2 linked regions of the Homo sapiens genome follow. The protein of the gene in region 2 purifies or fractionates together with the protein of the main gene of each other region. This does not show direct contact. Each region holds a gene or a part of one and is shown on either strand. Other genes may lie near its edges.

What was found. Proteins that work in one complex are often made in the same cells at the same time.
Region 1: the proteins of TIMM23 (region 2) and TMEM184B purify together in Homo sapiens (affinity purification with mass spectrometry; one large-scale study listed by BioGRID and IntAct). This does not show direct contact.

What each region holds. Positions count from the first base shown.
Region 1 is NC_000022.11:38,221,011-38,224,510, reverse strand, and holds part of TMEM184B (transmembrane protein 184B), read left to right. Parts: exon of another isoform or gene 1-32; intron 33-1,848; coding exon of another isoform or gene 1,849-1,869; intron 1,870-2,764; coding exon of another isoform or gene 2,765-2,800; coding exon 2,801-3,042; 3' UTR 3,043-3,500. UniProt on the Homo sapiens protein: May activate the MAP kinase signaling pathway.
Region 2 is NC_000010.11:45,975,489-45,978,988, reverse strand, and holds part of TIMM23 (mitochondrial import inner membrane translocase subunit Tim23), read right to left. Parts: coding exon 3,477-3,500; intron 1-3,476. UniProt on the Homo sapiens protein: Essential component of the TIM23 complex, a complex that mediates the translocation of transit peptide-containing proteins across the mitochondrial inner membrane.

The sequences.
Region 1 (3,500 bases), on a different chromosome or scaffold from region 2:
AAATTCCCTCGGGCTTCTAACTCCCAACACTGTGGTTACCATTTTGTCCTGTAATTCCCTCATCTCATATGCTATTTTTTAAAAAAAGGATACTTCTGGCCGGGCACGGTGGCTCACGCCTATAATCCCAGCACTTTGGGAGGCCGAGGCGGGTGGATCACAAGGTCAGGAGATCGAGACCATCCTGGCTAACACGGTGAAACCCTGTCTCTACTAAAAATACAAAAAATTAGCCGGGCGTGGTGGCGGGTGCTTGTAGTCCGAGCTACTCGGGAGGCTGAGGCAGGAGAATGGTGTGAATCCAGGAGGCGGAGCTTGCAGTGAGCGAGATTGTGCCATTGCACTCCAGCCTGGGTGACAGAGCAAGACTCCGTCTCAAAAAAAAGAAAGAAAGAAAAAAAAGAATACTTCTGAGAAACAGACTCGGATGGTAATAGGTTTTAACAGCTTTCTTTTACACCTGCGAATCTTCCTCCTTGCTAGAACAGTGGTAAGTAGCCCCAGTTGTACTGGAAAATGCCCTGGAGAGCTTTTGGAAGTGCTGATACCCAGCCCCACCCTCGGAGATCCCGCTGTAATGGGTCCGGGCTGGCAGGCTGGGTGTGCTGTGAGAGTTCTGTGCTTTAAGCACTCCCAGGGTGATGTGAAAGTGCTGCTGCCCGGGACGCTCCACTGGGCTGGAAGGGCTGCCTCTGGCCACTGGGCAGAAGGGGGTTGTCCTTGGAGGATGGGGAAGAGGAGGCTGGGAATGCCTGAGACTGATTGAGCCAGTAAAGGGGCAGGAGGGACTGGGGAGAGGGGAGCCTCCTTCTCTGACACATCCACCCAGGAGCCTGGCTGCTGCCAGCTGTCTGCCCGAGTGGCTGGAGGCAAGAAACCCACTTCCCCAGGGCCTACCTGCAGGCCCCACACAGGCTCCGTGGTGGGTGGTGTGGACTGTAGAAATGTCTGCCTGCAGCGGGGCTCCGCGGCCCACTTCCCGCCCCCCTTCCTCTGTGCCTTCCCTGGTGGGGGAAGACCTACTCTGTGCCCAAAGAGCAGGTGCACAAAGGCCAGGGGTTGCCACCTGGTGGCCCAGTTGGAAGGATCTAGCAAACACACACCCAGCATTGAGGGCAGTGTCCCTTGGACCTGGTGTGGTATACCCTGTGCCCGTGGGAACATCATCCTTGGGCCTGGGGCCTGGGGCCACCCCAAGGAGCAAGGGGGCCCATGGCAGAGAACCATTCCTGCACCACTGGGGCTCAGCAGAGGGGCTCTGCTGCCTGGCCTGAGCTGTCCCTCTAGACATACCCACGCCCGGCCGGGGAAGCTGCTTGCCCTCTTCTGCCTCCCCACTGGTCCTGAGCCCCCTGCTACCCTCTAACCCAGGCCCAGACCCTCAGCCCTCAGGATAGGCTTAGGTGCAGAGCTGGCTCAGCTGTGCGATTGTAACCCCTCCCTCTGAGCCTCCATGTCCTGGTCTGGGAAGTGTTGTGAGGTTTGTAAAATGTGAGGTGTGGATGTGGCCCCAGGCTAGCCGGGGAAGAAGTGGGGATGGGACGTCCTGACCTAGACGTGGAGGCGGAACTCAGTCGCCAGACGGATGTTTCCTGTTGGCGTGAACACCAGGGGAGGAGTCATCCCTAGGTGGATATCCCCCCTGCCAGGCCCCAGGAGGCACCTGGAGCTTCCTGGGTGCCCTGTGGGGCCTGGGGGGGTGGGGACAGGGTGTGTGGTGTGTCGTGCTGGTGGGCCTCGGTGGTGGGCACACATTGTTCACTCAGCTGTCTCTTGTCTTCTCTATTTCTTTGGCTTCTCTCCCCGCCCCCCTTGCCCTGCTTTTGCCCGGGGTTTGGCCGCGGGCAGTGCCAACATACGGCCCTTACGGTAGGTCCCGCTCTTGGTCTGCATGTCTGTCCTGCATGTCAGTTCTGGTCACTGTCACTGGCATGCGTCTCTCTGTAGCTCTTCTCCGTGTCCTCATCTCCTCCCCACCGGCACCCCCTGGGTGGGAGCGCCCAGAGCACCTGTCAAGGGCCACCCTCTGTAGAGCTTGCCTGCTTCCGTCCTCGTTTCTCGTTCTGGAATATGCCCCGCCTTCTTCTGGGGGCACAGTGCTGTTCATGGGATATCGGGGCATTTCACGATGTTTCCAAGAGTTCACAAGCTGAGTCAGGAATCCTGGGTTCCAGGGGTGGGCTCGTCCCTTACATCCAGGTGTCCTGGGCCACCTTTCTGCTCTGAGCCCCTGAGGATGGGGACAGTTGATTAGAGAGATGAGGAGGAAGCCCTCTTAGAGGGAGCCAGTGAGTCGCATCTGCTCCCCTGGGGGTGCAGGCCAGCCTGGTCCTGATCTCCAGAGTAGAGGGAGCACAGCACTTCCCCCGGTGGTGGGGGACGCGCCTGGCACCTGTGGAACCGGGCACCCCTGGCTTCCAGGCCCTCTGGCCCCACATGCCCCAACTTCAGTCAGTGCTGAGCCTGCTCTGGCCTCTCTGGGGCATTCTAGGCTCACTGCCCATAGCTTGCCAGTCTCCACCCTGGGTCCCTTCCCTGCAGCCAGCCCAGCTCCCAGTGGGGGTTTATGTCTGCTCCTCTTCACAGTCCAGCCTCCCCTTGGGGCTCCCCAGCCAAAGAAGTCCATTTTTTCCTGCCCCTTCTCATATCCTGGACCCCATTCTCTGTCCCAGAAGGGATGGTTGAAGGGCATAGCTTTGGGTTGGGGGGTGTCTGTCCCAGGATCACGGGCAGGGGCTGAGCCACCTCCCTCTCACCGTCCCAGCCTCCTCACCTGCCCCTCCCGCTCCCTGCCCGGCAGGCCGCTGTGCCCCCATGAAGAGCATCTCCAGCAGCCTCAAGGAGACCATGAACCCGCACGACATCGTGCAGGACGCCATCCACAACTTCTCACCTGCCTACCAGCAGTACACGCAGCAGTCCACCCTGGAGCCTGGGCCCACCTGGCGTGGTGGCGCCCACGGCCTCTCCCGCTCCCACAGCCTCAGTGGCGCCCGCGACAACGAGAAGACTCTCCTGCTCAGCTCTGATGATGAATTCTAGGTGCGGGCTGCAGTGGCGGAAGTGCTGGCGCCATAGCCACGGTCAGGCTGTGCCCCACCTCCAGCCTCACCACCAGGCCAGGAGGCAGCTGGCACAGTGCTCACGCCGCCTTTATTTATTGGACCAGAAACACTCACATGTCACTTCCAGAGGAACGGGGGACAGCCAGGCTCGCCCATGGGCCTTCAGGAATATTTATACATGGCCCAGCCTGCACTGCCCGGGCGAGGGCAGAGGACACTGGGAGCAAGGCTTATGCCCCTGCTGCCCGTCCTGTGCTGGGGGCATGCTGGGACCAGCCGCACCCAGGCCCCAATGCTTGTGTGTGGACCAGCGGCTGCAGCCTTCTAGCCCCTCCTCCCCGCGAGACTCTCAGGCTGAGGTCGGCAAGCCGTGGCTCCCCCACACACCGTGCAATACCCTGTCTGACCTGGGCTCTTCCCGCCTGCATCCCTCCC
Region 2 (3,500 bases):
TATATTGTAGCACAATTTAATAATTCTTTTTTTATTACCAAATAATATTCCATTGTATGGATATGCCACACTTTTTTATCCATTCATCAGTGGATAAACATTTGGTTTGTTTCCATTTTTTGGTTATTATGAATAATGCTACTAGCAACATTCATTTACAACTTATGTGCACAGAGGTTTTCAATTCTCTTGAGTATGGAGTATACGCAAGTGAAATTGCCAGTCATAAGGTAACTCTATTTTTAACACTTTGAGAAACTGCCAGACTGTTTCTAAAAGCAGCTGTATCATTTTACATTCCCACCAGCAATGTACAGAGGTCCAATTTCTCTACATCCTCAACAATACTCATTATTTTCTTTTTGATTATAGTGATCCCCGTGGGTGTAAAGAGGTATCTCATTGTGGTTTTATTTCTCTAATTAATGTTACTGACCAGCTTTCATGTCATTATTAGACATCTGTATATCTTCATAGAGAAATGTCTACTCAAATCCTTTGCCCATTTTGTAATTATTTTTTATTAATGTTTCAAGAGTTAAAAAAATTAAATATTCTAGATATAAATTCCTTATCAGATACATAATATGCAAATATTTTCTCTCAGTCTGTGGATTGTCTTTTCCCAATTTTTTTCCTTTTGAGACAAAGTCTCTCTCTGTCACCCAGGCTGGAGTTAAGTGGTTTGATTATGCTGAGACTTGACCTGCTGGACTCAAGTGATCCTCCCACCTCAGCCTCCCTAGTAGCTGGGACTACAGGTGCACACCACCACACCCGGCTAATTTTTGTATTTTTTTGGAGAGATGGGATCTTCTTATGTTGGCCAGGCAGGTCTCAAACTCCTGGGCTCAAGTGATCCTCCCGCCTCAGCCTCTTAAAAGTGTTGGGAGTATAGGCACGAGCCACTGCGCCAGGACTTTTTCCATTCTTTATTTATTTTTTTATTTTTTTTTTGAGACCGAGTCTTACTCTGTTGCCCAGGCTGAAGTGCGGGTGGCGCGATCTTGGCTCACCGCAACCTCTGCCTCCCAGGTTCAAGTGATTCTCCTGCCTCAGCCTCCCAAGTAGCTGGGATTACAGGCGCCCAGCACCACGCCTGGCTAATTTTTGTTTTTTAGTAGAGATGGGGTTTCACCATGTTGGCCAGGCTGGTCTCGAACTCCTGACCTCAGGTGATCTACCCACCTCAGCCTCCCAAAGTGCTGGGATTACAGGTATGAGCCACTGCACCTGGCCTCCATTCTTGTTGGTATTGTCTAAACCACAAAATTTTTAAATTCTGATTAAATACAATTTATCAACTTTCTTTTTACCACTTGTGCTTTTGGTGTCACATCCAAGAAATCACAGTCTAATCCAAAGTCACAACTACTTGTGCCCATGATTTCTTCTAAGAGTTTGACTGCTTTAGTTTACATTTAAGTCTTTAATCCATTTGGTGGTAACATTTTGCATATGGTGCAGGGTTAGGGTTCAACTTCATTCTTATGCATATGGATTCCAGTTGTCCTAACGTCTCCCCTGACTTAACTATCTTGGCATCCTTGCTGAAAAGCAAGTGACTGCATATATTGTAAGGTCTTTCTTCTGGACTCTGTATTTCATTAACTATGGATTTATTCTTATGTTACTATCATGATGTGGCTCTGTAGAAAGTTTTGAAATTGGCAAGTTCAAGTCCTCCAATCTATTTTCTCAAGGTCATTGGCCATTCTATGTCCCCTGAATTTCCATATGAATTTTAGGATAAAAGCTTGTCAATTTCTGCAAAAAAGCCAGCTGGGATTTTGACAGGCACTGCACTAAATCTGTTGGTTAATTTGGTGAGCACTGCCATTTTAATATTAAAATTTTCAGGATCATAGCATGTGTCTTTCCACTTAATTTCAATAATGTTTTATAGTTTTCAGAATATGTTTTGCACCTGGTCCATTTATTTCTAAGTATTTGCTTTTTGATGTTATTGGTAATCAACTGTTTTTTGTAATTTCATTTTTGTAGTGTTCATTGCAACTGTCTAGAAATATATTTGATTTATGTATATTGAACTTGTATTCTGCAACTTGCTGAACTCGATCATTAGTTTTAACAGATTTTTGTGATTTCCCTTGTGATTTTCTATAGATAAGATCATGTCATTTGTAAACAGATAGTTTAACTTCTTTCTCAACTTGAATGCCATTTAACGTACTTGACTAATTGCCCTGGCCAGACAATGCTGAATATAAATGAGAGTAAATATACTTATTTTGTTCCTGATCTTAGGGAGAAGGCATTCAGTCTTTCACCATTAAATTATGTTAGCTTTGGATATTCTGTAGATGGCATTTAACAGGCTGAAGTCCCTTTTATGTCTAGTTTTATTTATTTATTTAGAGATAGGGTCTTACTCTGTTGCCCAGGCTGGAGTGTAGTGGGGTGTTCTCAGCTCACTGCAACCTTTGTCTCCAGGGTTCAAGCGATTCTCGTGCCTCAGCCTCTCAAGCAGCTGGGATTACAGGTAGGCACCACCACGCCTGGCTAATTTTTGTATTTTTAGTAGAAACAGCGTTTTGCTATGTTGGCCAGGCTGGTCTCAAACTCCTGGCCTCAAGTGATCTGCCCACCTCAGCTTCCCAGAGTGCTGGGATTACAGGTGTGAATCACTGCGCCCAGCCTAGTTTGTTTTTATAATCATTAAAGGGGGTGTTGGATGTTGTCAAATGATTTTTGTGAATCTATTGAGATAAGCATGTGGTCTTTGTACTATATTCTTTCCTTGATTGCTTTATTATAAATTGATATGGCACAATACATTAATTTTCAGATGTTAAATCAACCTTGCTTTTCTAATATACCCAAGATATATTTCCTAATATATCTTGGATTCAAAAAGATACTCTTTGAAACTTTTGATGCTTAGTCAAAAAAACCCTGATATTGTAAACTGAGCTTTAAAACACACTTTGCCTGTAATCCCAGCACTTTGGGAGCCTGGCCAACATGGTGAAACCCCGTCTCTATTGAAAACACAAGAATTAGCCAGGCGTGGTGGTGGGCGCCTGTAGTCCCAGCTACTTGGGAGGCTGAGGCAGGAGGATGGCCTGAATTTGGGAGGCTGAGGTTGCAGTGAGCAGAGATCGCGCTACTGCACTCCAGCCTGGAGGACAAAAGCAAAACTCTGGCTCAAAAACAAACAAACAAACAAACAAAAAACCCCACACACTTTGTAACTAGGCATCCCAATACTTTTATTGGGGTGCTTTCAAAAATTAATTCTGCTCTGGTTTTAAAAAATAAGCTTTTGAAGGGAGTTAACTGGTTTCAGAGAGATGCAGGCCAAGCTCCTGGTGTTTGTGAGGAAAAAAGGGTGAATGGAGACCAGAGACTTACTGCCTCCAAAAGTGTATGTCATAGTTCAAGTCAGCATAGCACTTGGCGTTTTTTTTAAAATGGTAAAATAATGCACCAAACTAGTAAAATCTTAATCTTACCTGCACGAGGTATCGTGGATCCAC